Regions from separate parts of the Homo sapiens genome. Here regions 1 and 2 are each linked to region 3. Evidence: fine-mapped expression QTL. A gene starts in region 3. Each other region holds a variant in brackets. All regions are shown on one strand. Distances are from middle to middle.

Region 1 (10,341 bases), 310 kb after region 3:
AGGGTTTTTGATTCAGTAGGTCTGCGGTGCAGGGCCTGGAGTTTGAATTTCTACTACTCTCTGGGGAATGCGATGCTCTGGTCCAGGACCACACTCTAATAACTATTTCATTTATTTTCCTTTTTTTTTTTTCTTGAGACAGAGCCTTGCTTTTGAGACAGAGATTCAGACAGGTTAATTCACTTGCTGAAGGTCACACAGCCAGGAAAGGCAGAATTTGAACCTGGTCTTTGTGAGCCCAAAGGCTGGGCTGGTTCTGTCTCCGGCAACTGCTAGTTAGCACCTCCCAGGAACTTACCTTGTTTCTGCAGGTTAACTCAACACTCCCTGAAGCCTGAGGAAGTTTGTTATTTTTATTTTTATTTTTTGAAGACAGAGTCTGATTCTATCGCCCAGGCTGGAGTTCAGTGGCGTGATCTCAGCTCACTGCAACCTCTGCCTCCCAGGTTCAAGCAATTCTCCTGTCTCAGCCTCCCGAGTAGCTGGGATGACAGGTGCGCGCCACCATGCCCAGCTAATTTTTTTTTCTTTTTTTGAGATGGAGTCTCACTCTGTCACCCAGACCAGAGTGCAGTGGCAAGATCTCAGCTCACTGCAAGCTCCGCCTCCCAGGTTGACACCATTCTCCTGCCTCAGCCTTCCAAGTAGCTAGGGCTACAGGTGCCGGCTACCACGCCCAGCTAATTTTTTGTATTTTTAGTAGAGACGGGGTTTCACCGTGTTAGCCAGGATGGTCTCGATCTCCTGACCTCGTGATCCTCCCACCTCGGCCTCCCAAAGTGCTGGGATTACAGGCGTGAGCCACCATGCCCAGCCAATTTTTGTATTTTTAGTAGAGGGTTTCGTCATGTTAGCCAGGCTGGTCTCGAACTCCTGACGTCAGGTGATCCACCCACCTCAGCCTCCCAAAGTGCTGGGATTACAGGTGTGAGCCACTGTGCCCAGCCATCAAGTCATCATTTTATTTAAGGAGCTTGAGTCTCAGTGAAGGAAAGTGACTCTCAAAAATCACCAAGTGCCTGCGATCCCAGCCCTTTGGGAGGCAGAAGCAGGAGGATTGACCAGGAGATGGAGGCTATAGTGAGCTATGATTGTGCCACTGTCCTCCTGTCTGGCCAACTGAGCGAGACTCTGTCTCAAAAATAAATAAAAAATAAAAATAAGAGTCGTACAGCAAAGTAGTAGCAATATTGAGACTAGGACCAAGGTCTCTTGACTCCGCATCAAGGGCTCCTCCTACTACTTCCTGCACATGGTATTCTTTATCACTTCCAAAATGACATTCCTAGCTGGGTGCAGTGGTTCACACCTGTAATCCCAGCACTTTGGGAGGCCGAGGTAGGAGGATTGCTTGAGGCCAGGAGTTTGAGACCAGACTGGGCAACATAGCTAGAACCCATCGCCACAAATATTAAAAAAGAATTAGCTGGGCATGGTGGCATACACCTGTAGTTTCAGCTATTCGGGAGGCTGTGGTGGGAGGATCGCTTGAGTCCAGGAGTTGGAGGCTGCAGTGAGCCATGATTGCGCCACTGCCCTCCAGCCTGGGCAACAGAGCCAGACCCTGTCTCTAAAAAACAAAAACCACTGGCCGGGTGCAGTGGCTCACGCCTGTAATCCTAGCACTTCGGGGAGCTGAGACAGGTGGATCATCTGAGGTCAGGAGTGCAAGACCAGCCTGGACAACATGGTGAGACCCTGTCTCTACTAAAAATACAAAAGTTAGCCGGGTGTGGCCAGGCGCGGTGGCTCATGCCTGTAATCCCAGCACTTTGGGAGGCCAAGGCAGGCGGATCACGAGGTCAGGAGATCAAGACGATCCTGGCTAACATGGTGAAACCCCGTTCTCTACTAAAAATACGAAAAAAAATTAGCCGGGCGTGGTGGCATGTACCTGTAATCCCAGCTACTCAGGAGGCTGAGGCAGGAGAATGGTGTGAACCCGGGAGGCGGAGCTTGCCGTCAGCGGAGATCATGCCACTGCACTACAGCCTGGGTGACAGAGTGAGACTCTGTCTCAAAAAAAAAAAAAAAAAAACCAAAAAACAAAAACGGTTACATGGGTGTGGTGGCAAGCACCTGTAATCCCAGCTACTCCAGAGGCTGAGGCAGGAGAACCACTTGAACCCCACGGGCGGAGGTTGCAATGAGCCGAGATCACACCACTGCACTCCAGCCTTGGCGATAGAGTGAGACTCCATCTCAAAAAAACACACAAAAAAACTGTCATCAAGAGGCAGCTTCCTTCTGCCCACCCCTTTCCTTCCTCTCCCACAAGTCTGCCTGTGCCTGCTCAGCCAAGCCTAGACAGGGCTCCAGATCTGGGGAAGGAGAGAGTGATGGGATGTGCCTTGGTTGCTGGCTGAACCCACCTTCCTTAATTTCCCTTCCACTCCCAAGAGCTGAAGAAGCCAAAGACAAACGAGAGCAGTATTCCTTTCCACAAGCCCACAGCGTCAAGCCTGGATGAGCTCCTGGGCCTGTAGCTACTTGCAAGGCTATTTTACCAGTGACCCTCAGAGGCCCAGCTTCGTCCTACTCTCCCCTCCCCTCCTCTCACTGAAACCTCAGGTCCCCAGCGATGAGGAGCTCATCTCTAAAGACTCGGAGGGGCTGATCCCGGATGTTAGACAGCTAGGTACTACTCCAAACCTCAGGACCCATTAAATCTCAGGGCTTCCTGGGACTCAGATCCTGCACCAACACCATTCACCCCCAGAAGGGTTCCTGGCAGATAATAGAGACGTGATGAATAATTGGTGATTGAAAACTCCAGACATGAGCTGCTCTTTATTAGTCTGTTTTGAGGCCCCGCCTGAAAACCTGAAAGCAGGCTTTGACTTTAGGCTTCACTCAGGACTGATTCCCAGTGAAGTCACTTAACTCATGTGTTGAACACCTGCTGTGTAACATGTGCAGAATGAAAGCTACATGACCTTTCTTTTCTCTTTCTTTTTTTTTTTTTTTCTGAGATAGAGTCTCACTCTGTTGCCCAGGCTGGAGTGCACTGGTGCAATCTCACCTCATTGCAACCTCTGCCTCCCGGGTTCAAATTATTCTGTCTCAGCCTCCCAAGTAGCTGGGATTATAGACACATGCCACCACACCCAGCTAATTTTTTGTATTTTTAGTAGAAACGGGGTTTCACCATGTGAAAAAGATGTTTTAAGAGATAAGGTCTTGTTATGTTGCCCAGGCTGGTCTCAAACTCCTGAGCTCAAGCAATCCTCCCGCCTCAGTCTCCCAAGGTGCTGGGATTATAGGCATGAGTCACCGTGCCCGGCCTTGCTGTTGCTTTTGTGAAACAACCCTGCTTTTTCCTGGAGAGCCACCTCTGCACCTTCATGTGGCTTGGCTACTCCGAGAGGGGACCTGAGGCTGCTGGGTCTCCCTTCTTGTTGTCTCCGTTGCCCTCCAACCTCCTTCCAAATTGCCACAGCCTCCCTCTAGGTCCTTATTCCCACGGTGCCAGGCCAAATCCCTCACCCAGCTCCTAGGCTGCAGCCTTCACCCGGCCCTGCCGTGAGCATGGTCCCTGTAGAGCCCCCTGGAGGTGTAGTTTCAGCTCTTGGTGAGGCGCGGGCAGCAGGCAGCGGGGCTGGAGTTCCTTCACAGCACGTGGATGCATCTCCCACAGCCCCCATGTGCGTCTGCAGACGCACAACTCTCCACAGCCAAGCCCATGGCAAAGCCCTTCAGCACCAGAGAGGCAGGGTAGTGGGCTACCCCTGGGAGCTGGCAGTTTCCAGCAAGGCCTCCTTTGCTGAGCCTTGGACAAGTCCCGTAATCCACCCTAAATACCTTTCTTGTAGGATCGCTAAGGACAGCAGCTGACGGGACTGGGTCCTTGGTGAATGGCAGCTGTTACCGTCCTTATAAGGAAAGGTGGAGTTACAAACAGGCATTTTGGCCCCAAGAAGGGGGTGGGACCCAGAGCAGAAACGTGCTGACCATGCTTCCCCCCAAATAGACCCACAGGTGACCCCTACTGGGATTTAGGCCCTCACCTTAGGGGT[C/T]TCTCCCTGACCCACCCAAACTCCTCTCATCCCCTCCCGCCGTCCACAAACACACTCCATACTGACTCAGAACTATCTGATATTTATTTCCCAATATTTTGATACTTGTTTTACAACTGGAATACATGGAATGAAGGGGCTGATATGGGACCCCAGGTAAGAGTGAGGTCAGGACTCTCTAAGGGTCTGGGGTTCCCCCTAGAGGGGACTTTGGGCATCCAGTTTCAGGGACTGAGCCGGGTTGGGTCGGGGGGCAGCATGGCATCGGACGTGGTGCCGTCTGTGCCTCTCCTGCCTGCGGTACAGCCGGCGCAGGTGTTTCCGAACGGCCCACAGCACCAGGTACACCTCCCACAGCAACTCAGCCTCCGGAGTCTTCAAAGGTGACTGCGTCCTCACTTGGGAGCTGACTGAGGCAGAACTCACTGATGACTGTAAGAGAAAGAGAAGATGTGCATGCGTAAATAGCTGGGTCTAGGGAGAAACTGCCGCTAGAACGACCCATAGATAAACAGCAAAGGGCTCCCTGATTCCACCTCTCCCATCAGCCCAACTCATACATCACCTCCTCCAGAAAGCCTTCTCAGGTTGCATCAAATGTTTGTCATTTCTATCCTTTTTTTTTTTTTTAATGAGACGGGGTCTTGCTATGTTGCCCAGGCTGGTCTCGAACTCCTGGGCTCAAGAGATCTTCCTGCCTTGGCTTCCCAAAGTGTTGGGGATTACAGGCGTGAGGCATCACACCTGGCCCATCAGTTCTATTCTTCTTTTTTTTGTTGTTTTGAGATGGAGTCTTGCTCTATCACCCAGGCTGGAGTACAGTGGCATGATCTCAGCTCACTGCATCCTCCACCTCCTGGGTTTAAGCGATTCTTCTGCCTCAGGCTCCTGAGTAGCTGGGATTACAGGTGCTCGCTATCACGCCCAGCTAATTTTTGTAGTTTTAGTAGAGAAGGGGTTTCACCATGTTGGCCAGGCTGGTCTCGAACTCCTGACCTCAAGTGATCAGCCGGCCTCGGCCTCCCAAAGTGCTGGGATTACAGGCGTGAGCCACCATGCCTGGCCTTTTTTTTTTTTTTTTTTTTGAGACAAGGTCTCACTCTGTCACCCAGGCTGGAGTGCAGTGGCATAATCTCAGCTCACTGCAACCTCCACCTCCCAAGTTCAAGTGATGCTCCCACCTCAGCCTCCTGAGTAGCTGGGACTACAGTCGTGCACCACCATGCCCGGCTAACTTTTATATATATATATGTGTGTGTGTGTGTGTGTGTGTGTGTGTGTGTGTGTGTATATATATATATATATTTTTTTTTTTTTTTGTAGAAATGGGGTTTTGCCCAGGCTGGTCTTGAACTCCTGAGCTCAAGTGATCCACCTGCCTCAGCCTCCCAAATGCTGAGATTACAGGCGTGAGTCGCCACGCTCGGCTTAAACTGTTTTTTTGTTTTGTTTTGTTTTGAGATCATTGTAGACTGACTGACCTGCAATTGGAAGAAATCATAGAGATCCTGTGCACCCTTTACTGAGTTCACCTCATAGGAAAATCTTGCAAATCTATACTATTATATCATAGTCAGGATATTGACATTGATCCAATCTACTGATCTTATGTAGATTTCCCCAGTTGTACTTGTACTCACTGGTGTGTGTGTGTGTGTGTGTGTGTGTGTGTGTGTGTGTGTGTGTATAATTTTACCAAGTTTTATCCAGTATGCAGGTTCATGTATCCAACTACCACAGTCAAGGTACAGAACATTTCCATCGGGCAGGAGAAACAAAAAACAAAAACATAAAAACAAAACAAAACAGAAAGCTACAGAACATTTCCATCAGACAGGAGAAAGCAAAAAACAAAAACAAAACAAAAAAAGATACAGAACATTTGCATCATCACAAGTGTCCCTCATGTTGTCCTTTAATAACTACACTCTTCTCCCCCTATCTCTGTGGCCCCTGGAAACCACTGAGCCACTAATATGTTTGCCATTTCTAGACTTTTGTTATTTCAAGAGTGGTAGATAATATAAACGGAATCATTCAGAATATAACCTTTTAGGATTGGTTGTTTCCACTCAGTATAATTTCCTTGAGGCCGGGCCCAGTGGCTCATGCCTATAATCCCAGCACTTTGGGAGGCCAAGGTGGGTGGATCACCTGAAGTCAGGAGTTCCAGACCAGCCTGGCTAACATGGTGAAACCCCATCTCTACTAAAAATACAAAAAATTAGCTGGGTGTGGTGGTGGGCACCTGTGGTCCCATCTAATCGGGAGGCTGAGGCAGGAGAATAGCTTGAAGCTGGGAGGCGGAGGTTGCAGTGAGCCGAGGTCGCACCACTTCATTCCAGCCTGGGCAATGAGAGTGAAACTCCGTCTCAAAACAAAACAAAAAATTTCCCTCAAGATTCACACCCACGTTACTGTGTGTATCAATAGTTTGTCCTTTTTACCTTTTTTTTTTTTTTTTTTTTGAGACGAAGTCTCCCTCTGTCACCCAGGCTGGAGTGCAGTGGCACAATCTTGGCTCACTGCAAGCTCCGCCTCCCGGGTTCACGCCATTCTCCTGCCTCAGCCTCCCGAGTAGCTGGTACTACAGGCGCCTGCCACCACGCCTGGCTAATTTTTTTGTATTTTTTTTTTTAGTAGAGACGGGCTTTCATCCTGTTAGTCAGGATGGTCTTGATCTCCTGACCTCGAGATCCGCCTGCCTCGGCCTCCCAAAGTGCTGGGATTACAGGTGTGAGCCACCGTGCCCGGCCTTTATTTTTTCAGGCAGAGTTTCACTTTTGTTGCCCAGGCTGGAGTGCAGTGGCATGATCTCAGCTCACTGCAACCTCCGCCTCCCAGGTTCAAGCGATTCTCCTGCCTCAGCCTCCCGAGTAGCCCACCACCATGCCCAGATAATTTTTTTGTATTTTTAGTAGATACAGGGTTTCACCATGTTGGCCGGGCTGGTCTCGAACTCCTGATCTCAGGTGATATGCCTGCCTTGGCCTCCCAAAGTGCTGGGATTACAGGCATGAGCCACCACGCCCGGCCCTGTCCTTTCCGTCTTTTTAGAATTTTATTTATTTGTGTGTTTGTTTTGTTTGTTTGCAGATACGGGGTCTCACTATGTTGTCTAGGCTGGCCTCGAAACCCTGGGCTCGAGCGATGCTTCTGCCTGGTGTTTCAAAGTGCTAGGATCACAGGTGTGTCGCTGCTCCTGGCCAGTTTGTCCCTTCTTATTGCTGAGTAGTATTCTGGGGTTTGAAGGTATCACAGTTTAACCATTCACCCACTGAAGGACATGGGTTGATTTTGGCTATTACAAATCAAGCTGCTGTGAACATCCACATTTAGATTTTTTTTTTTTTTTAGATGGAGTCTCGCTCTGTCACCCAGGCTGGAGTACAGTGGCGCTATTTCAGCTCACTGCAAGCTCCGCCTCCCAGGTTCACGCCATTCTCCTGCCTCAGCCTCCCAAGTAGCTGGGACTACAGGCACCCGCCACCACGCCCGACTAATTTTTTGTATTTTTAGTACAGACGGGGTTTCACTGTGTTAGCCAGGATGGTCTTGATCTCCTGACCTTGTGATCCACCTGCCTCGGCCTCCCAAAGTGTTAGGATTACAGGCGTGAGCCACTGCGCCTGGCCTCACATTTAGATTTTTGTGTGAACATAAGATTTTATTTATCTGGGATAAATGCCCAAGAGTACAACTGTTGGGTCATATGATAACTGCGTGGTTAGTTTTATAAGAAATAACCACTCTTGGCCAGGCGCTGTGGCTCACGCCTGTAATCCCAGTACTTTGGGAGTCTGAGGTGGGAGGATCGCCTGAAGTCAAGAGTTCGAGACTAGCATGGTCCAATATGGTGAAACTCTGTCTCTACTAAAAATACAAAAGTTAGTCAGACATGGTGGTGAGTGCCTGTAATCCCAGCTACTTGGGAGGCTGAGGCAGGATAATTGCTTGAACCTGGCAGGCAGAGGTTGCAGTGAACAAGATCATGCCACTGCACTCCAGCCTATGTGAGAGAGTGAGACTCCATCATAAAAAAAAAAAGAGAGAGAGAGAGAGAAATGACCATCCTGTTTTCCAGAGTTGCTGTGCTATCTATTTTCCTTTTTTTTTTTTGAGAGTGTCTCACTGCCACCCAGGTTGGAGTGCAGTGGCACAAATATAGCTCACTGTGGCCTTGACCTCCCAGTGGTCCTCTCACCTTAGCCTCCCAAGTAGCTGGGACTACAGGCATGCATCATGCCTGGCTAATTTTTTTACTTTTGTAGAGATGGGGTCTCCCTGTGTTGCCCAGGCTGGGCTGAACAAGCTTACAATCCTACCCAAATATGAGTGCAGGTGAGCTTTCAAAATCAACATTTGATCATGTCACTCCTCTGCTCAAATGTCTTCAAGGGCTCCCATTGCTCTAAGGGTCCAATCCAAAGCTCACAACTTGGCAACCCTGCCTTCTACCAGCTGACTTTAGGCTTCAGGATCGTTCCACTCCAACCCACACACCTTGGGACAGCTCTGCACTCATCTGCTATTCTTTTCTGTTTGTTTGAGACAGACTCTCACTGTATTGCCCAGGCTGGAGTGCAGTGGCAGAATCTCGGGTCATTGCAACCACTGCTTCCCAGGATCAAGCGATTCTCCTGCCTCAGCCTCCCAAGTATCTGGGATTACAGCGGTGCACCACCACACCCCACTGATTTTTGTTTTTGTTTTTAGTAGAGACAGGGTTTCACCATGTCGGCCAGGCTGGTCCTAACTTCAGGTGATCCACCTGCCTCAGTGGCACGATCTCGGCTCACTGCAGCCTCCGCTTCCCAGACTCCAGCAGACTTCCCACTTCAGCCTCCCGAATAGCTGGGACTACAGCTGTGAGCCACCGATTCCTGGCTTATTTTTGTATTTTTTGTAGAGAGAGGGTTTCACCATGTTGCCCAGGCTGGTCTCGAACTCCTGAGCTCAAATGATCCTCCTGCCTTGGCCTCCCAAAGTGTTGGGATTACAGGCATGATCCACTGTGCCTGGCCACACATTTGCCATTCTTACTCCCTGGACACCCCTCCCACTCCCTCCACCTTCCCCTAACAACCCTTTCAAGCCAAGCTAACACCTTCAGGCCTCAGCTTTACCCTCACTTCTGTTAAGAAGGCCTTGCCTGGCCGGGCGCAGTGGCTCACACCTGTAATCCCAGCACTTTGGGAGGCCGAGGCGGACAGATCACGAGGTCAGGAGATCAAGACCATCCTGGTTAACACAGTGAAACCCTGCCTCTACTAAAAATACAAAAAAAAATTTAGCTGGGCGTGGTGGCGGGTGCCTGTAGTCCGAGCTACTCAGGAGGCTGAGGCAGGAGAACGGTGTGAACCCAGGAGGCGGAGCTTGCAGCGAACCGAGATCCCGCCACTGCACTCCAACCTGGGCGACAGACTCCGTCTCAAAAAAAAAAAAAAAAAAAGGCCTCACCTGACTCCTTAGGTTTGGATAACATGCCTCTCTCCTGGGGTCCTACAGCCCGCTTGACAACGTCACACTCAACAATGTGTGGATACTGAACTAGCAATGCCTATTGTCTCATCTGTAGCCCTGCAAGTCTGCAAGTCTTGTTCATTGTTGTATCTTTAGTACATGGCATTTGGTGGACGCATAGGAAATATTTTTTATTTTTATTATTTATTTTTTTTGAGATGGAGTCTCGCTCTGTCGCCCAGGCTGGAGTGCAGTGGTGCTATCTCGGCTCACTGCAAGCTCCGCCTCCCGGGTTCATGCCATTCTCCTGCCTCAGCCTCCTGAGTAGCTGGGACTACAGCCACCTGCCACCTTGCCTGGCTAATTTTTTGTATTTTTAGTAGAGACGGGGTTTCACCATGTTAGCCAGTATGGTCTCAATCTCCTGACCTCGTGATCAGCCTGCCTCGGCCTCCCAAAGTGCTGGGATTACAGGCGTAAGCCACCGTGCCCGGCCAGAAATATATATATATTTTTAAGAGACAGAGTCTCGCTCTATTGCCCAGGCTGGAGTGCAGTGGCACAATCATAGCTCATTACAGCCTTGAACTCCTGGGCTCATGTGTTCCTCCTGCCTCAGCCTCCCAAGTAGCTGGAAATACAGGCACCACTAAGCCTGGCTAATTTTTAACTTTTTTGTAGAAATGGGGTCTCACTTTGTTGCCCAGGCTGGCCTTGAACTCCTGGCCTCAAGTGATCCTCCTGCCTCAGCCTCCCAAAGTGCTGGGACTATAGGCATGAGCCACCATGCCTGGCTAAGAAAGAAAACATTTGCCGGGCATGGTGGCTCATGCCTGTAATCCCAGCACTTTGGGAGGCTGAG
Region 2 (10,341 bases), 89 kb after region 3:
CGAGACCATCTGTTCCCCAAAAACAGGGACCAGAACTGTGACCCTGCTGGCCTCAGTCCTGGGCATGGTTTTGGTGCCCAAGTCTGTGTCCAGGCCGCTCTCAGGCTGGGCTTCAAGGCTTTTGGTCCTTGGGTGATGGGGGTCATCACCCCCTCAACCCCCGTGTCCCTGTTCCCCATTTAGCCAGAACCGCACCCCCACTGCACCCTAGAGAGTATTGCAAGCAGAGATGGCAAGTCCAAGCGTGCACAGGCAGAGGCTTGCAGGAAACTGACCCCTGGCCGCTTATCTGGTGTTCCGGCTCTCAAGCACAAAGCCAGGCATGGGCTCTGCATCCCCACCCATTGAGGGGAGCCAGGACAGAAAGAAGCCCACAAGTAACCCAGGTGTATTTGTCTGTTCTCATGCTGCTAATAAACACATACCCGAGACTGGGTAATTTATAAAGGGAAAAGGTTTAATGGACTCATAGTTCCACGTGGCTGGTTGGTGGTTGGCAGGGTTGCGGGGGCGGGGGTGCTCACAATCATGACAGAAGGCAAAGAAGGAGCCAAGGCACGTCTTACATGGCAACAGGCAAGAGAGCATGTGCAGGGGAACTACCTTTATAAAACCATCAGATCTCCTGAGACTTATTCACTGCCACGAGAACAGTATGAGGGAGACCACCCCCATGATTCAATTATCTCCACCTGCCCCCACCCTTGACACGTGGGGATTATTACAATTCAAGGTGAGATTTGGGTGGGCACACAGCCAAACCATATCACCAGGCAAAGGGCAAGTATCACTCTCTCAAATATGCAAATGGAAAAGGGATCTTTGAGTGGACAGTGTTGCAGGGGATGGGGGTGGCTGGTGTATCCATGGGTCGCCCTCCTCCCTGGCCTCCTCTCCTGCCACCTGCCCTGCAGCCCCCTCATCTACAGAACCTCTCCAGCTCCTTTTTAAAACTTATTCCTGAAAATTTTCACAAGGATATGGAGCCACTGGAACTCTCTTATGCTGCTGGTGGGAGTACAAAATGGCCCAGCCCTTCAAACATTCATTTGGCAGTTTCTTTCTTCTTTTTAGAGATAGGGTCTTGCTCTGTCACCCAGTCTGGCGTGCAGTGATGCAATCACAGCTCATGGAGGCCTTGAATGCCTGGGCTCAAGCAATTCCCCTGCCTCAGTCTCCTGAGTAGCTGGAACTACAGGCACACAATACCATGTCCAGCTAAATTTTTTTTTTTTTTTTTGAGACAGAGTCTCTCACCCTGTCACCCAGGCTAGAGTGCAGTGGCATCTCAGCTCACTGCAACCTCCACCTCCCAGGTTCAAGTGATTCTCCTGCCTCAGCTTCCCCAGTAGCTGGGCTTACAGGCGCCCGCCACCACATCTGGCTAATTTTTGTATTTTTAGTGAAGACAAGGTTTCTCCATGTTGGCCAGGCTGGTCTCGAACTCCTGACTTCAGGTGATCCACCCGTCTCAGCATCCCAAAGTGCTGGGATTATAGGCGTGAGCCACCGTGCCCAGACAGTCCAGCTAGTTTTTAAAGTTGTTTTTGTAGAGATGAGGTCTTGCTATGTTGTCTAGGCTGGTCTTGAACTCTTGTCCTTAAGCGATCCTCCCTCTTTGGCTTTCCAAAGTGCTGGGATTACAGGCGTGAGCCACTGCACCCAGCTGGCAATTTCTTATAAAGTTCAGCACACATTGACCACCCAGCCTCAGCTATCCTGCTCCTGGGTATTCATCCACGAGAAGTGAAAACAGGTGCCCGCACAAAGACTTAGATGCGAATACATATTGCCTGTTTGTATTTGCTCTAAATTGGAAACAACCCAAATGTCCTTCCTTCAACTGGAAAGAGGATAAACTAAGGCACATCCACATGAGGAAATACGGGTCAGCAATTAAAAGGAATAAACTACCGATTCATGCATTAACACGGGTAGATCTAAAGTGCATTTTGCTAAGTTAAACAGCCAAGCTCAAAAGATTCTATACTGTATGTTTCTATTCATACAACATTCTGGAAGAGGCCAAACTATAGGGACAAATGATTAGCAGTTATCAGGGGACGGGTAGACACTGACTAGAGAGGGGCACTGGGAAATTCTGGGGGGATGGGCCTCTTGAGTGTGGCGGTGGTTACAAGATCATATAAATTCACATAAATTTAGGCCGGGCACGGTGACTCACGCCTGTAATCCCAGCACTTTGAGAGGCAGAGGTGGGAGGATCACCTGAGGTCAGGAGTTTGAGACCACTTGGCCAACATGGTGAAACCCTGTCTCTACAAAAAAATGCAAAAATTAGCCAGGCGTGGCAGTGGGCACCTGTAATCCCAACTACTGGGGAGGCAGAGGCAGAAGACTCGCTTGAACCCAGGAGGCGGAGGTTGCAATTAGCCAAGATCACGCCACTACACTCCAGCCTGGGTGATTAGATTCAGACTCCATCTCAAAAAAACCTCACAAGATCATATAAATTTGTCAAAACCCAAAGAACTATCTGCTAAAAAGGGGTGAATTTGTGAATTACGCTGTATGTAAATCATACCTTGATAAACTTGAATGTAAAGAAAATGCTTGGTCTGCTGCGGTGGCTCACGCCTGTAATCCCAGCATTTTGGGAGGCTGAGGTGGGCGGATCACTCGAGGTCAAGAGTTTGAGACCAGCCTGGCCAACATGGCAAAACCCCATTTCTACTAAAAATATAAAAATTAGCCCGGCGTGGTGGTGGGCGTCTGTAATCCCAGCCACTTGGAAGGCTGAGGCAGGAGAATTATTTGAACCTGGGAGGTTGCTGTGAGCTGAGATCGTGCCACTGCACTAGAGCCTAGGCAACAGAGCCACTCCATCTCGGGGAAAAAAAAAAAAAAAAATCCTGTGCTAGGGTCATCCATGAGGTGGCCTCTCTCCCCCTGGGAGGGGCGTAACGCATTCTGCTGGAACAACCACCCACGCTCATCAATTTCCCTCCGGCTCTTCAGTTTTCTAATTACGTCTCTGTCCCTGCCTGTCCCATATCCAATTTGCAAGTATTGCCTGGATACGTGAAATCTATAATTGCTTTGAGAACAACAGCAAATTATCACCACAGTAAGTGGCAATCACTGGTCAGGCCTGGACCCTTCCTAGGGACCCCCATGAACTCAGAAAGAGCCCTGGACTCCCACAGTCACCAGACTGCCATGAGCTGGTACTCCCTGGGTGGGGTGGGGCTGCCCAGCTGCCCGAGAGCCCCGGGGAGGCAAACAGACGCGGCCCTTGCTCCCGGCGCCCTCGGCTCTGAGGGACACTCCAGAAATAGACCGCACAAATTATTCCGGAAGGCATAAACACCAGCAGAAGGCAACAGCGGCCTGTGTGTAAACGGAGTATAAATATGTTGTTGAAGTGACCTGTCCCCAGGGGCTGAGCAATTCTGTGGCTCTGCCAGCTAGGGGACATCTCAGAATGTGCACCTCGGCACGGGTGGGCTTCGGGGAGGGCAGATCAGCCGGAGGCACCTGCTGCCGTCGCTCTGGTCACTACCCTCAGGAGTCGGCCCCCAGACTCCTCCCTCTCCTTGACCTCCTTGTTGTTGTTTTTTTTTTTTTTTTTTTTTTTTTGAGATGGAGTCTCGCTCTGTCACCCAGGCTGGAGTGCAGTGGCGCAATCTCGGCTCACTGCAAGCTCCGCCTCCTGGGTTCACGCCATTCTCCTGCCTCAGCCTCCAGAGTAGCTGAGACTACAGGCGCCCACCACCACGCCCGACTAATTTTTTGTATTTTTAGTAGAGACAGGGTTTCATCGTGTTAGCCAGGGTGGTCATAAACTCCTGACCTCATGATCCACCCGGCTCCGCCTCCCAAAGTGCTGGGATTACAGGCATGAGCCACCGCACCCGGCCTTTTTTTTTTTTTTTCTTTTTTGAGACAGGCTCTTGCTCTGTTGCCCAGGCTGGAGTGCAGTGGCATGATCTTGGCTCACTGTGGCCTTGACCTCCTGGGCTCAAGCAATCCTCCTAGCTCAGCCTCCCAACTAGCTTGGACTACAGGCGTGCATTACCCATGCCCAGCCGGCTAATTTTTTATTTTTTGTAGAGACAGGGTCTCACTACGTTGTCCCGACTGGTCTTGCACTTCTGAGCTCAAGTGATCCTTCTGCCTTGGCCTCCCAAAGTGCTGGGATTATAGGAGTGAGTCACTGCGCCCAGCCCACACCACTTCTTAATTCAAGCTACAGGTCCCCCCTTTGCCTTTGGATTACATCTGCTGCATTTCTTGTCTTATCAAGCTTAACCTTCCTATCTTTGCTTCTCGAAGTCATCTCCCTATTGCTGGGCAGTTGGCCATTCCCCAGTCCAAGCACAGCACCCCCTTGCGGGCCATCCTTAGCCTCCCAAGTACCCGGGATTACAGGTGCACACCACCACACCCAGCTAATTTTTTAAATTTTTATAGAGATGGGATCTTGCTATGTTGCCCAGGTGGGTCTTGAACTCCTGGCCTCAAGTGATCCTCCCACCTCCACCTCCCAAAGTGCTGGGATTATGGGTGTGAGCCACTCCACACAGCCCCATGTCTTCTTTACTCGAAGGTCACTCTGAGATCCGTTTTTGCCTCTCCACCACTCCCCACAAAGCAAACTCAAGACTGGACTACCCTTCTGTCTTGTCTCCCTCTTCCACTCCTGGCCTCAACGCACCTGCCTCCACAGTCTCATGCCTCCAACAGTGACGAATGTTCTTTCTTTTTTATTTGAGATGAAGTTTCACGCTTGTTGCCCAGGCTGGAGTGCAGTGGTGCCACATCTTGGCTCACTGCAACCTCTGCCTCTGGGGTTCAAGCGATTCTCCAGCCTCAGCCTCCCAGGTAGCTGGGATTACAGGCGCCCGCCACCACATCCAGCTAATTTTTTGGAGTTTTTAGTAGAGACAGGGTTTCACCATGTTGGCCAGGCTGGTCTCAAACTCCTGACCTCAGAAGATCCACCCGCCTCAGCCTCCCAAAGTGCTGGGATTACAGGCATGACCCACCTCGCCCAGCCTAAATGTTCTTTCATCTACCCAGCATAGCCTCCCAACTTTGTTGGCTGAAGATTTCATGTTCATCCTTTAAGACCCAGTTCAAACATCTCCTCTGGGGTAAAACCTTTCCTGGCCAGAAATGGTGGCTCATACCTGTAATCCCAGAACTTTGGGAGGTGGAGGTGAATGGATCTCTTGAGGTTGGGAGTTCAAGACCAGTCTGGCCAACATGGTGAAACCCTGCCTCTACTAAAAAT[TA/T]AAAAAAAAAAAACAAAAACCCTGCCTGATCAACACCAGCCACTTCCTTTCCCTCATCTCCCATCATAGAGGTTGTCCTCCTTTGACAGCCTACAGCCCCACACTATGTCTATGAGATGACTTTCAGGCCACTGTGGACAACTGGGCTGGTGGTGCATCACAGCCCTAGGATACAATTCATCTCACAGTCTATGTGAATTATGCCCTTAGAGTTGTGCAGCGCACAACCCATGCAACTGCATGTGACAGTGCCGAGTGCTTCCCACAATCTATTACAAATCATACTTTAAGGGTCTACTTCCCTCAGTAGACCACAGCGCTCAGAAGCAAGGACAGAGGGTCCTCCGTACACACACCTTGTATCTGACACTGGCTGGACATGGAATCAACACTCAAGGATTGCTGAGCGAAAGGATGGCCTGTGGCCACACACTTGCCTTCAAAATCAAAGAAGCCTCAATGAGAAAAAACCCTGTCTGCCCTCATGTGGCATCATCTTGACTTAACCCTCCTCTTGGAGAAGCTAAGGTCTCCAGTTCTAATTCTCTCTCCGCCTTTTCTAATGAGTCATGGCCAGGTGCACACCCCAGATGCCAGGCCCCCGGGGTTTGTGGCCTCTCTGTACTCTGCCTACAAAGAGCTGGAAAGAGGAGCAAATGCCAGAAAGTACCCAGTATGGGTGCTAAGTGCTGTTAAAAAACTCCAGGCGGGAGGCCGGGCGCGGTGGCTCACATCTGTAATCTCAGCACTTCTGGAGGCCAAGGCAGGGGGATCACTTGAGCCTAGGAGTTTGAGACCAGCCTGGGCAACATGGTAAGACTCCATCTCTACAAAAAAATTTAAAAATTACCTGAGCATGGTGGTGTGCCCCTGTAGTCTCAGCTACTCAGGAGGTGGAGGTGGGAGGATCACTTGGGCCTGGGAGGCGGAGGCTGCAGTGAGCCATGATTGCACCACTGCACTCCAGCCTGGGTGACACAGTGAGATCCTGTCTTAAAAAATAAAATAAAAGATGCAGGCTTGATTCCTGCAGGGTCACCATACTCTGTGTCAGCCAGACTCTGCCAAGGTCACCTGCTAGCTTGCCTGGGAACAAGCCAGGACCTTTGGAATTAATAGCCTGGCCTGCTGGGTGCAGTGGCTCATGCCTGTAATCCCAGCACTTTGGGAGGCAGAGGCAGGTGGCTCACCTGAGGTCAGGAGTTCGAGACCAGTCTGGCCAACATGGTGAAACCCCATCTCTACCTCTACTAAAAATACAAAAAATTAGCCAGGCGTGGTGGCGCGCACCTGTAGTCCCAGCTACTCGGGAGGCTGACGCAGAATTGCTTGAACCGGGGAGGTGGAGATTGCAGTGAGCCGAGATCATGCCACTGCACTGCAGACTGGGTAACAGAGCGAGACTCCATCTCAAAAACAAACAAAAAAGAGCCTGGCCAGCGGGGTTTTGAAACAAGCCCAGAGCCTTCACTGCTCAAGTGACCCACCCACCCAAAAAAGAGAGGCTCTGCAAACAGGCCCCAAGACAGGCGTCTTGGATGTTATAGGCCCTGTTTACAAAACATTCTCGGGCCTTACTTAAAGCAGGTCCTTTCTCAGCCCACTTGGGATTACAGCACCAGCCTGGAAGGACAGGGGTGTTTCTTTCAAAGTGTGGCCCATTCTGTCTGGAATGAGGGAGGTTTGGCCACATCTCCTGCAGCCTATCCAAGTGAGGGAATGAAGGGATCAGGGCCTCACCTGCTTCCGGAGACTGCCCACCCCTGCCCCTGCCAGCCAACTTCTGGCTGCCTCCCTGCTGATGTTTTTCTGATGTGGCTAACAGTAGCATTCATTCATTCATTCATTCCTTTAGAGACAGTGTCTTGCTCTGTCACCCAGGCTGGAGTGCACTGGCATGATCATAGTTCACTGCAGCCTCCAACTCCTGGGCTCAAGTGGTCCTCCCACCTCAGCCTCCTGAGTAGCTGGGACTATAGATGCACATCACCATGGCTGGCTAATTTTTAAATGTTTGTGGAGACGGGGTCTTGCTATGTTGCCCAGGCTGGTCTCAAATTCCTGACCTCAAGCGATCCTCCCAAGCCTCGGCCTCCCAAAGTACTGGGATTACAGGTGTAAGCCAGTGCACCCGGCTGACAGGGGCCTTTTAAAACACGCAGTGAGCGGCCGGGCGCGGTGGCTCATGCCTGTAATCCCAGCACTTTGGAAGGCCAAGGCAGGCGGATCACAAGGTCAAGAGATCAAGACCATCCGGGACAACAAGGTGAAACCCCGTCTCTACTAAAAATACAAAAATTAGCTGGGCATGGTGGTGTGCGCCTGCTACTCAGGAGGCTGAGTGCCCAGCTACTCAGGAGGCTGGGGCGGGAGAATCACTTGAATCTGGGAGGCAGGGGTTGCAGTGAGCCAAGATCACGCCAGCCACTGCACTCCAGCTTGGAGACAGAGCAAGATTCCATCTCAAAAAAAAAAAAAAAAAAAAAAAGGCAGTGAGTGATAGAAGTGTTTCGGGGCCACAGTTCATGGAGCTTTTCTTCCCAGAGGAAAATCGGGGGGAGGGTGAATGCCCGGCTTTGTTCTGCTAACCAGCTGCAGCTTTTTCATCTGTTTCTCCTGGGTTTTCAATGGGTCTCTCGTGTTATTTACATTTCATTTCTCCTGTCTTTAGCAACTAGAAGCTGCCCTTTCAAGTTTTACTTAGAAAAAAGCCCTTAATTGGTTCTGCAACTGGAAGGGCGATCCTGAACAGGAGTTATTTTGCCTTAAGATAGAAAATAAGGCCGGGTGCGGTGGCTCATGCTTGTAATCCCAGCCCTTGGGGAGGCCGAGGTGAGTGGATCACGAGGTCAGGAGATCGAGACCACCCTGGCTAACACGGTGAAACCGTGTCTCTACTGAAAAAAAAAATACAAAAAATTAGCTGGGCGCGGTGGCGGGTGCCTGTAGTCCCAGCTACTCGGGAGGCTGAGGCAGGAGAATGGCGTGAGCACGGGAGGTGGAGCTTGCAGTGAGCTGAGATCGCGCCACTGCACTCCAGCCTGGGCGACAGAGTGAGACTCCATCTCAAAAAAAGAAAAAAAAAGATAGAAAATAAAATGTGCTTGTGTCACGGGCGACCAGGCTGAATCCAATCAGACAGCGTGGGTGATGGTGTTTGGCAAATTCCAGGGTGATTATGGAGAGGCAGGGCTACCAAAGGGGATGGATAGGGCAGAAGAAATCACAAAGATCTGGGGAAAGCCCCAGGAACCCAGGCTCCCCCCAAGGAGATCTCAGTCCTTGTAGACAAGAGTATACCTTCTGCTTGTCAGGTCTTGGTGCAAAATGATCACTGATTTTGGATCTCCCCAATTCTCACGGTCCCCAGTCCAACTTCCTTTCACCCCTACCAGCCTATCACCTCCCCAGCCATGGCGATATCCATTATAGTACTGAGATTAATCACTTCCATGTCTGTCTGCCTTTTTTTTTTTTTTTTTTTTTTGAGATGGAGTCTCACTCTGTTGCCCAGGCTGGAGTGCAGTGGTGCGATCTCGGCTCACTGCAACTTCTGCCTCCCATGTTCAAGTGATTCTCCTGCCTCAGCTCCCCGAGTAGCCGGGATTACAGGTGTGTGCCACCATGCCCCGCTAATTTTTGCATTTTTAGTAGAGATGGGGTTTCGCCATGTTGGCCAGGCTGGTCTCCAACTCCTGACCTCAGGTGATCCACCCACCTCAGCCTCCCAAAGTGCTGGGATTACAGGTGTGAGCCACCGTGCCCCGCCCCATTTCTGTCTTTGCGAGCAAGAGACAAGGCTGCATCTCCTCCTCCAGGGCCGCCATGCCCAGCACAGGGCTTGGTACGAGGTCTGTAATCAGTGTGACCTTAATGAATGTGCTGTAGAATGATTCCCATTTCACAGACGGGAAAACCGAAGCTTAGTTGGGTTAAAGGAGTTAGCTGCCTGGGGTCTGCCGAGCCGGGGCTGAGCTGCCTGTACGGGTTGGGGACTTCCTGAAGGCAGGGGGGACTTGTAGCATACGCCCCATGACTCAGCGTTTCCATTCTGAGACATGCACCCTTTACAGATACGTAACGGGAGACACAGACAAGAGGATCCGTGACAGCCTGTTCTCAGTAACAAAAACCTGGCCACAGCCCAGATGCCCATCAGCAGGAGAGGACATGAAGAATGGCAGAATATTACCCAGCAGGCAACATGAACCATCCACAGTGTTAAGCAAAGAGATAAACAAGTATCAGCAATGTCACAGCACTGTGGGTTGAAAAACAAGTCCCCAGACATTGTGTATGGCAGGGTACACTTTTTACAGAGTTACAACTACTTATGATTTAAAAAAAAAACAAAAACACCTGGCCAGGCACAGTGGTTCATGCCTGTAATCCCAGCACTTTGGGGAGGCCAAGGCAAGCAGATCACTTGAGGTCAGGAGTTCGAGGCCAGCCTGGCCAACATGGTGAAAACCCATCTCTACTAAAAATACAAAAATTAGCCTGGCGTAGTGGCACATGCCTGTAATCCTAGCTACCTGGGGGACTGAAGCACGAGAATCGCTTGAACCTGGGAGTTCGAGGCTGCAGTGTAGATCACACCACTGCACTCCGGACTAGTGAGACTCTGTCTCAAAAAAAAAAAAAGGCAATGCTTTGGAGTTGGCTGTTCGATCCTGTGGTCTTGGGCATATTTACACAGCTCCTGAGCCTGTTCCCCAAACTTCCAAGAGGGGTACATACTGTCTGCCTTCAGGAACCAGGGTGGGGAATCAATGTCCCTTTGTAGATAAAATCACCAGGTGACCAGCCTGGGCAACACAGTGAGACCCTGCCTCTACCAAAAAAAAAATCTAAAAAAAAATATTAACAGGGCCTGGTAGCATGCACCTGTAGTCCCAGCTACTCAGGAGGCTGAGGAAGGAGGATTGCTCAAGCCCAGGAGGTCGAGGCTGCAGTGATGAGCTGTGATTGCACCACTGCACTTCGGCCTAGGTGACAGCGTAAGACCTTGTCTCAAAAAATAAAAAATAAAATTAAAAAAGCACCAGGCGGCCGGGCGCGGTGGCTCATGCCTGTAATCCCA
Region 3 (10,341 bases):
TTGATTGGGGAAGTGATAAGCGTCCATGAAATCTTCACAATTTACATTCAGAGATTGCAGTAAAGACAGGCGTAAGAAATTATAAAAGTATTAATTTGGGGAACTAATAAATGTCCATGAAATCTTCACAATCCACGTTCTTCTGCCATGGCTTCAGCCAATCCCTCCGTTTGGGGTCCCTGACTTCCCACAACAGGCCACGTTGGCCAGGCTGGTCTCAAACTCCTGAGCTAAAAAATTAGCCGGGCGTGGTGGCAGACGCCTGTAGTCCCAACTACTCGGGAGGCTGAGGCAGGAGAATGATGTGAACCCGGGAGGAGGAGTTTGCAGTGAGCTGAGATCACGCCACTGCACTCTAGCCAGCCTGGGCGGGAAAAAAAAAAAAAAAAAAAGAGAGAGACAAACTCAATAGAAAAATGAGAAAAGAGTTGAACTGGGCCGGCATGGTGGCTCATGCCTGTAATCCCAGCACTTTGGGAGGCCGAGGTGGGTAGATCACTTAAGGTCAGGAGTTTGAGACCAGCCTGGCCAACATGGTCAACATGGTGAAACCCCCTTTCTACTAAAAACCCAAAAAAATTAGTCGTGCCTGGTGGTGCGTGCCTGTAATCCCAGCTACTCGGGAGGCTGAGGCAGGAGGATTGCTTGAACCTGGGAGGTGGAGGTTGCAGTGGGCCGAGATCGCACCACCGCTCTCTAGCCTGGGCAACAGAGGAAGACTATCTCAAAAAAAAAATAAATAAATAAGCCAGTTGCAGTGGCTCATGCCTGTAATCGTAGCACTTTGGGAGGCCGAGGCAGGTGGATTGCTCTGAGCTCAGGAGTTCAAGACCAGCCTGGGCAACACGGTGAAACCCCGTCTCTACTAAAAATACAAAAAAAAAAGCCGGGATGGCAACGTGCCCCTGTAGTCCCAGCTACTTGGGAGGCTGAGGCAAGGGAATTGCTTGAATCCAGGAGGCGGAGGTTGCAGTGAGCCAAGAGCGCACCATTGCACTCCAGCCTGGGCAACATAGCAAGACTCTGTCTCAAAAAAAAAAAAAAGTTGAACTGATACTTCACAAAAGATGATATCCCAAAAGCCAAACCTGTCTGAAAATGTGATCAACCTCATTAATATTTAGGTAAATGCAAATAAAAACTACAATGAGAAGCCATCGCATATCCAAAAACTTTACCCTAAAAGTGTGGCAATACTGGCTGGGCATGGTGGCTCAGGCCTGTAATCCCAACACTTTGGGAGGCTGATGCAGGCAGATCACGAGGTCAAGAGATCAAGACTATCCTGGCCAACATGGTGAAACCCATCTCTACTAAAAATACAAAAATTAGCTGGGTGTGGTGGTGCGCTCCTGTAGTCCCAGCTACTCGGGAGGCTGAGGCAGAAGAATTGCTTGAACCCGGGAACCAGGAGGTGGAGGTTGCAGTGAGCTGAGATTGCGCCACTGCACTCCAGCCTGGGCAACAGAACAAGACTGTCTCAAAAAAAAAACAAAAAACAAAAAGTGTGGCAATACCATGTGTTAATGGAGCTGGAGATAACTGGGAACTCTGACACATTGCTAGAGGAGTGTGAGTTGGTCCAACCAGTTTGATTTGCAGACCATAGATAAAAAAGATAGGAAACTCTCTGATTCATTTTATCTGGCAACCTGCTCTTTCTACCAAAAGCAGATAAAGAATATACCAAAAAGAAACTACAGCCCAATCTCATTTATCATAATAGATTTTAAAAATTCTAAATAAAGCAGTAAAACAAATGGGTAGTATAATTTGTTCCAGCAGATTTTATTCCAGAAACACAAAGATGGTTAAATATCAAGAATACTGCCACCATAATTTATTACATCAAAATCTTTTTTTTTTCTTTTGAGACGGAGTTTCATTCTTGTTGCCCAGGTTGGAGTGCAATGGCACAATCTCAGCTCATTGCAACCTTCGCCTCCTGGATTCAAGGATTCTCCTGCCTCAGCCTCCCCAGTAGCTGGGATTACAGGCATGCACCACCACACCCACCTAGTTTTTTTTTTTTTTGTTTGTTTGTTTTGTATTTTTAGTAGTGATGAGGTTTCACCATGTTGGCCAGGCAGGTCTCGAACTCCTGACTTCAGGTGATCCACCCGCCTTGGTCTCCCAAAGTGCTGGGATTACAGGTGTGAGCTACCACGCCCAGCCTTGAAATTGCTGTTTCTAACAAGTCTTAAAAGACACCCAGACTTTAACAATTGTTATTATATTCAGATTTTTTTGTTGCTTTTTGAGACAATCTTGCTCTTTTACCCAGTCTTGAGTGCAGTAGCATGATCATGGCTCACTGCAGCCTCAACCTCCTGGGCTCAAGCGATTCTCCCACCTCAGCCTCCCGGGTAGCTGGGACTACATGTGCAGTATCATGCCTGGTTAATTTTTAAATTTTTAGAGATGGGGTCTTGCTATGTTGCCCAGGCTTCTAGAATCATTCTTCATATTATTTCACTAACACAGCCTCCACCACATTAATATGGCAACAGGTTTAGAAATTATTTAAAACAAAAATTTCTAATGTTTACATATATTGTGTGATGTGTGTGTGTGTGTGTGTGTGTGTGTGTGTGTGTATCATTCCAAGGTACTGTTTCTAATTTTTTCCTGTAGGGAATGAATATTCAGTATTGCAGCTGCATTGGCTAGCTGGGGATTCTATTTACCACCACATTGTCCCGGACTGAATCTGGGGACAAAAAAACCACTTCGGGAACAAATTCTTGTCTTCAACAAAGAGCTGTCTTGAGTAGGCACAAAAGTAGCATTTGAGGGCCGGACGCGGTGGCTCAAGCCTGTAATCCCAGCACTTTGGGAGGCCGAGGCGGGCGGATCACGAGGTCAGGAGTTTGAGACCAGCCTGGCCAATATGGTGAAACCCTATCTCTACTAAAAACACAAAAATAGCCGGGCGTGGTGGTGGGCGCCTGTAATCCCAGCTACTCGCGAGGCTGAGGCAGGAGAATTGCTTGAACACGGGAGGCGGAAGTTGTATTGAGCCAGAGATCGCGCCATTGCACTGCAACCTGGGCGACCGAGTGAGACTCCGACTCAAAAAAAAAAAAAAGTAGCATTTGAGTACCTTTTTTTTCCTTTTCTTTTCTTTTTTTTTTAGAGGAAGGGCACCCAGGCTGGAGTGCAGTGGCACCATAATAGCTCACTGCACTCTGCAACTGCTGAGCTCAAGAGATTCTCCTCCATCAGCCTCCCTAGTAGCTGGAATTACTGGCGTGAGGCACCATGCCCGGCTTATTTTCTTATTTTTTTGTAGAGGTGGTTGGAGCGGGGGGACTGGGGAGGGTCTCGCTATGTTGCTCAGGCTCGTCTCGAACTCTTGCCCTGAAATGATCCGTCCTCGGCCTCGCAAAGCGCTGAGATTACAGGCGTGAGCCACGGCGCCCAGCCTTGAATAGTTTTTCACATGCATTGCACGTTATTTCCTTTTATTCTCTAGTTTTTGGGTCCAGTCTTAAACCTGGGAAGGGATTCATTTGGGGGGGTCACACCAGCGGGCATCCTGGCTCAGGCGGAACTCTGGCTCCAGACAGTGCGCCCAGGACCAAACGGTCAACCCCGGCCTACTCCCGCCCCTCCCAGATCCTCCCCTCCTCGGACGCTCCCGCGTCTTCCTCTCGCTCAGGCACTGAGGGGCGGGGAGATGGGTGTTAAAGAGGGGATATCACCAATCAACGTGCGCCTCCGGGAAACAGCGCTTCGCACTGGCTGGTTGGGTCTGACGACGTGGCCACTGTCCAATCCTCATGCTAGAGGCGGGGCTAAAGGCCAGTGGCGCAAGCAGAAGGAGGAGCGCAGCGGCTGCAAGCACGTGACCGGGGCCTGAAGCCGGAAGCTACCTATCTGGTAGGGAGCTCCCCCAGCACCGAAGACTGCGATGGTGAGTGAGGACGCATGCGCGAGAGGACCCGCCGGGGGTTCAGCGTCTCTGCTCCCCAGTCTGTGTGGTTTCCCCCTGGTGGGCCTGCGCTCCACCCTCACCTCCTATCCGCTCGGGGAGGAAGAGGGGATGGAAATGGGAGGGATGGCGACGAGAATGCTGGGGAGGGGTCTGTGGGAGGGTGTTCTGGGGCTGCGGGTAGTCTGCAGGTCGGGCGGAGACGAAGGGAGGTGAAGAGAGGGTCTGGGGGCAGGGGCCAGTGGGGCAGCAAAGGCCCCTTGGGGTAGCAAAGGTGGGATGTGGAAGGCCAGGGGAGCCCGGGGGCGAGAGTGGGGGCAGATGGAGGCTCGGGAAGATCAGTATTGAGGACCATGTAGGGGGGAGGGGGCCGGGAAGGGACCTGGCTGGGGAATGAGAAAACCTGGGGCCATCGTCAACCCAGAGACTTGGGTTTGCAGGTGAAGGGTATCGGGCCGTCCATCCCTCTAGCATGCTTCTCACGACTTGCATCTTTACCCACTAGACTTCTGCGCTGACCCAGGGGCTGGAGCGAATCCCAGACCAGCTCGGCTACCTGGTACTGAGTGAAGGTGCAGTGCTGGCGGTGCGTTCTGGGAAAGGGAGGGGGTCCCTTAGTGCACACAGCCCGGTAACCCCTTCTAATATTGGCCCTTCTTTTCTCGGCTTTTATCTGGTTTCCTGCCTGGCATCTATTAGGTTGGTACAAAAGTATTTGCAGTTTTTGCAATTACTTTCAGTAATCAGTCTGTGGAATCTTAGTCTCCTAACGGCTGCGATTTATTTATTTATAGTTTTTGAGACTGAGTTTCGTTCTTGTTGCCCAAGCTGGAGTGCAGTGGTGCGACCTCGGCTCACTGCAACCTCCGCCTCCGGGGTTCAAGCGATTCTCCTGCCTCAGCCTCCCGAGTAGCTGGGATTATAGGCACGTGCCACCATGCTCTGCTAATTTTTTGTATTTTTAGTAGAAACGGGGTTTCACCGTGTTAGCCAGGCTGGTCTCAAACTCCTGACCTCAGGTGATCCACCTGCCTCAGCCTCCCAAAGTGCTGGGATTACAGGCGTGAGCCAACATGCCTGGCCTTTATTTGGTATTTCTTAAAAAGGCATTTGTATTTTGTTCCATAGTACTGTATGGTGTTAGGTCTCTAGATTACAGGCGTGAGCCACCACGTCTGGCCTTTATTTGGTATTTCTTAAAGAGGCATTTGTATTTTGTTCCATAGTACTGTATAGTGTTAAGTCTCCAGATGTTTTTGACTTAGGTAGAGACAAAGCTTAAGGTTAAGGGTTGAAAACAATACAGGTGGTAAAGACTATTGAGGGAATCCAGGATATTAAAAATTCAACATGTTATGACAAGGTAACTAACTTTCCGGGAGGTAGGAATTCAGCCCACCTTAAAGGAGAGTATTTACAGTGGGGGAGGACTTATTTGCAGGTGTGTGGCACTAACCTATCTGAACTGATGGTAAGTTTATGCTGAAAAGATTTGGGAAGGTTTGAGGGAAGAGAGGAGGATATGGTCAGGGAGGATGTAATTGTGAAGGATCTTCAAGGCCAGGTTAACACACTTGAACTTATTCTTGAAGGTAATACAGTTTGAAAGGTTTTTTAAAACAGAAACAAGACCCAGTGAGGTGGTTGAGCAATATTGTTGTTAGTGATGTGAAGATGGGCAGAAGGAGGCGTCATTAAGAGATGAGACTGGGCTGGGCGTGGTGGTTCATGCCTGTAATTCTAGCACTTTGGGAGGCCAAGGCGGGCGGATCACGAGGTCAGGAGATCGAGACCATCCTGGCCAACACGGTGAAACCCCGTCTGTACTAAAAATACAAAAACAAAATTAGCCAGGCCTGGTGGCGGGCACTTGTAGTCCCAGCTACTCGGGAAGCTGAGGCAGTAGAATGGCGTGAACCTGGAAGGTGGAGGTTGCAGTTAGCCGAGATCACACCACTGTACTCCAGCCTGGGCGACAGAGCAAGACTCCGTCTCAAAAAAAACAAAAAAAAAAAGAGATGAGACTGGGCAAGTGGTGGTAAGAAGGAGGAGCAAGGAGAGAAGAGTTTTGTTTTTGTTTTTTTTTGTTTTTGTTTTTTGAGACAGAGTCTCGCTCTGTGGCCCAGGCTGGAGTGCAGTGGCATGATCTCAGCTCACTGCAACCTCCGTCTTCCGGGTTCAAGTGATTTTCCTGCCTCAGCCTCCTGATTAGCTAGGATTACAGGTGTGCACCACCATGCCCAGCTAATTTTTGTATTTTTAGTAGAGAGAGGGTTTCACCATGTTGGCCGGGCTGGTCTCGAACTCCTGACCTCATGATTTGCCCGCCTCAGCCTCCCACCCAAAGTGCTGGGATTACAGGCATAAGCCACTGCACCCGGCCTGTTTTTTTGTTTTTGTTTTTGTTTTTTTTGAGACGGAGTCTCACTCTGTCACCCAGGCTGGAGTGCAGTGGTGCAGTCTCCCCTCACTGCAAGCTCCGCCTCCCGGGTTCACGCCATTCTCCTGCCTCAGCCTCCCTAGTAGCTGGGACTACAGGCGCCCGCCACCATGCCCGGCTACTTTTTTGTATTTTTAGTAGAGATGGGGTTTCACCATGTTAGCCAGGATGGTCTGGATCTCCTGACCTCGTGATCCGCCTACCTCGGCCTCCCAAAGTGCTGGGATTACAGGTGTGAGCCACAGCACCCCGTCCTGTTTTTTTGTTTGTTTGTTTTTTTTTAAGATAGAGTCTCGCCGTCACTCAGGCTGGAGTGCAGTGGTAACGATCACATCTCATTGTAGCCTTGAACTCCTGGGCCCAAGCAATCCTCCCGCCTCAGCATCCCAAGTAACTAGAACTACAGGCAAGCACCACCACGCCCAGCCATTAAAAAAAAAAAAAAAATGTGTGGAGACAGGGGCCTTGCTATGTTGCCCAGGCTGGTCTCAAACTCCTGGCCTCCAGCATTCCTCCTGCCTTGGCCTCCCAGAGTGCTGAGATTACAGGCATGAGCTCCTGTGCTTGGCTGGAAGAAGTTATTTTAAAGGAGGAATCAGTATATCTTGCTAATGACTAGAAATAGGTAATAGAGGAAATATTTCTGTAGCCAGAACTCTAAAGCCTGGAAGAGTGATGATGCCTTAAGAAACATGTCCCTGCGTGGTGGCTCACGCCTTTAATCCCAGCACTTTGGGAGGCTGAGGTGGGTGGATCACTTGAGGTTGGGAGTTCGAGAGCACCCTAGCCAACATGGTGAAACCTCATCTCTACAAAAAATTAGCCTGGCATGGAAGCACATGCATGTAATCCCAGCTTCTTGGGAGGTTGAGGCAGGAGAATTGCTTGAACCCAGGAGGCAGAGGTTGCAGTGAGCCAAGATTGCACCACTGTACTCCAGCCTGGGTGATAGAGTGAGACTCTGTCTCAAAAAACAAACAAACAAACAGGAAATCAAAAAAAGAAGTGGATTGGGAAGGAGGTGGATAAGGATAAGGTGAAATTTGATGGCCCAACTTTAGACATTGAGTTTGATATAAAATAGCAGTTAATATATATTGCTAGTTCAGCAAAAGGAACTAAATCTAGTGGAGGCCCATATCAAGGAAGAGGGAAGAGGAAGTTGAGACAGTCACCAGAAAAGAGGAAGCCCAAGCCACTGTCCCATCACTTACTCTAGGGGTCAACAGAGGGAGGTATTCAAGGACAAAGGGAATGTTTATGTTTGAGATTCTGCAAACAGGGCAGCAAGTGTGAAGACAGAAAAAGATGGAGCCATTAACAGGTAAGTGGTGGGCAGGCATTCATTTTGGAGAATGTGGCTTTATCAAATAGGCAGGGACATGGGAGAAATCCAGTTTTATGGGGTTAGAAAAGCATGGTCAATAAAGAGATGGATGGCCAGGCACGGTGGCTCACGTCTGTAATCCCAGCATTTTGGGAGGCTGAGGCGGGCAGATCATTTGAGGTCAAGAGTTTGAGACCAGCTGATTAATATGGTAAAACCCCGTCTCTACTAAAAATATAAAAAATTAGCTAGATGTGGTGGTGCTGGTACGTGCCTGTAATCTCAGCTATTTGGGAGGCTGAGGCAGGAGAATCACTTGAACCCGAGAGGCCGAGATTGCACCACTGCACTACAGCCTGGGTGACAGAACGAGATTCCGTCTCAAAAAAGAAAAAAAAAAAAAAGATGGATAAGTTACTGCTCATCCGGGGAAGGCCAGTATTATGGGAAACAGGATGGCATCCGGAGGGTGACAACATTATAGGGGGAGATTTCAGGTTGTTTTTTTCCAAAGCTGAGGGTACTGGCAAGCCAAGGGGGAGAGGGTCTAAGTGTGAGAACCAAGGGGACTGTGCCTGGAATTCCTTCCTGAGCCTGTGCCGTAATGCCCGCCCCTCTCCCTCCTCCGTCTGCATGCAGTCATCTGGGGACCTGGAGAATGATGAGCAGGCAGCCAGTGCCATCTCTGAGCTGGTCAGCACAGCCTGCGGTTTCCGGCTGCACCGCGGCATGAATGTGCCCTTCAAGCGCCTGTCTGGTGAGCCCCTGCCCCTGCCCTTGGTGGTGGTACTGGGAGCGGGGGGCTACTTCCAGGGGCTTCTCGGCTTCTCTTCTTCCAGCCTCCTACCATCTCCTGGGGTCTCTGGTCTGGCCACTTTCCTCCCTTTGGGACTCCCTGGTATCAGAATTGTGAATGAGAAGGCAAGAGAAAGGAGATCTAGCAGAGGCCACTCATCTTCAAATCTCTGAGCCTGGAACTATAGAACTTCTTTGGCTTTGATCCCAGCCAATGTGCGTGTGGCCCCGCCCCATGGAGTCTGTTGCACCCACTAACTCTGTGCTCCCTTCCCTCTCCTGGGGCGGGGGAAGGTGTGTCTCTCCTCCAGTGGTCTTTGGAGAACACACACTGCTGGTGACGGTGTCAGGACAGAGGGTGTTTGTGGTGAAGAGGCAGAACCGAGGTCGGGAGCCCATTGATGTCTGAGCCTGCCGGAGGGCGAGGGTCGGAGAAGCGGATTGGGTCCTGGGCCTCTGTGATGAGGCAGGCACACCTGTCGGTCTTGGCTTGCTGCTAGAACTAGGGCCTTCTGCTCGCCCACCTCCCACCCCTACCTGGACGGGCCCAGGCTTGGGGACTCTGAGCTGTGTTAAGGAGAACAAGGGCAAGGAGACCTCCCTTTGTGCTCCCTCACTCCCTAATAAACATGAGTCTGATGTTCTCCAGCCCAGGGACATGTGTGTTTAGTGTTGGAATGGTTACACCCCATGTCTGTCTTCCACCTTCTGGGGAGAAAGTCATGCACCTTAGCCCAAGTTGGGTGCGGCAGGGCCACCTCTGTGTGCTATAAAACTGGGAAGCAGAAAAAGCTGGAGGGGAAGGGAGTCACCCTGAGCCCTGGCGACCTCTGCTCTTCCCATCAGTACACAAACTAGTCATCCTTCTCCCTCCTGAACAGGCATTTAATAGTCTTATTTCAGTTGGAAGCAATAGTTGGAAAATAAGTTACAGGAACAGACCAAAAAAAAAAAAATTAAAGTGCTTCAGGCTGCAAACGTAAACATAAGGGGCAGGAGGCTACCTGGCCCTGTCCCCAACCCCTGAGACAGGAAGGTCACTGTCAGGGGCCCTTAGCCATCACCACCCTCTAATCTCAGCCCTGCGGGAGGGAGGGAGGGAATGTCAGAGGTGGGAAAGAACTCAACGGGAATGAGGAAGAGACTTTGTAAACTCAGAACCAGGGTAAAGGGCCGGGGACAAGGGAGCTCTGGGAACCCTTGCCCTGGCCTAGGGGTGGGGCCAGCCCCCCCCACAGGAACTCGGGGAATACTGGTGGCTTAGTCCCAGCCATGCCCGCCCACTTCACAGCTTCTTCCCCCATCCCTCATCAGCAGACACAAGACAGGCAGCTCTGCCAGGCCTCTTCACCCCCGTCTGGGAGGCATCCCAGGGGAGGCACAGCCCGGGAGCAGGGATCCCCTCTGGGGGCGTTGGGTCTCTGGAGTGTAAGAGGGAACAGAGCTGGCACGGTGCTACTTGACGGGTTCCACCACCAGGACCTTGCACTCGCGCTTGGCAATCTTGTCCAGAGACAACACAGCCTTGTCCGGGGGCAGGTAGAGGGGGCGGCCAACAGGAGAGGCCACAGGGGGCGTGATGGCTCTGCGCTCCATCACACTGCCCGACCTGGGGGAAGGCAGAGGCTGTGGGCGCTGGTCAGACCCGGCACCCTCGCTGCTCCCATCCTCTACCCGGTCCCATGCCACGCCCCCTGGTTCTGTACCTCATGAGGTGGCTTCGGGAAGGCTGCTGGTGGGAGAAGGACTGGGAGCGGCCCAGGCTAGCCTGATGCCTCTCCACCAAGTCCCGGACAGCAGGGCTGCTGGGGCTGCTCTTGCGGGAGAGGGGCCGGGCCTCGGGTG

Alleles and levels. Alleles are on the strand shown, and positions count from the first base shown. SD is a standard deviation of normalised expression in the study named. Not every link is listed here.
For the expression in lymphoblastoid cells of the gene that starts at base 3,859 in region 3, allele TA in region 2 goes with a higher level than allele T (small effect, 0.36 SD a copy in GEUVADIS).

Evidence for each region.
Region 1: its variant is fine-mapped to the expression of LAMTOR4 in whole blood (TOPMed, PIP above 0.99). The same link has a PIP of 0.9 or more in subcutaneous fat.
Region 2: its variant is fine-mapped to the expression of LAMTOR4 in lymphoblastoid cells (GEUVADIS, PIP 0.95).

What each region holds. Positions count from the first base shown.
Region 1 is chr7:100,452,538-100,462,878 of GRCh38, forward strand. It overlaps TSC22D4-C7ORF61 (TSC22D4-C7orf61 readthrough), which reads right to left. Exons shown (of 6, transcript NM_001395846.1): 6 at 4,083-4,448. The coding sequence ends at 4,215. It overlaps SPACDR (sperm acrosome developmental regulator), which reads right to left. Exons shown (of 3, transcript NM_001004323.3): 3 at 4,083-4,448. The coding sequence ends at 4,215. Among named protein-coding and RNA genes, the nearest start is that of SPACDR, 6.6 kb to the right of the region's middle. RefSeq lists a silencer at 4,565-4,727. The variant C/T (reference allele first, on the strand shown) is at 4,017.
Region 2 is chr7:100,234,314-100,244,654 of GRCh38, forward strand. It overlaps the pseudogene CASTOR3P. Among named protein-coding and RNA genes, the nearest start is that of PVRIG, 20 kb to the left of the region's middle. RefSeq lists an enhancer at 9,191-9,590. The variant TA/T (reference allele first, on the strand shown) is at 5,258.
Region 3 is chr7:100,145,060-100,155,400 of GRCh38, forward strand. LAMTOR4 (late endosomal/lysosomal adaptor, MAPK and MTOR activator 4) reads left to right here and starts at 3,859. Exons shown (of 4, transcript NM_001008395.4): 1 at 3,859-3,916; 2 at 4,440-4,520; 3 at 8,341-8,458; 4 at 8,808-9,144. The coding sequence starts at 3,914. The coding sequence ends at 8,905. TRAPPC14 (trafficking protein particle complex subunit 14) reads right to left here. Exons shown (of 11, transcript NM_018275.5): 10 at 10,203-10,341; 11 at 9,364-10,105. The coding sequence ends at 9,952. RefSeq lists enhancers at 2,862-3,474, 3,499-3,558, 3,829-3,938, 4,087-4,699 and silencers at 4,239-4,328, 4,339-4,428.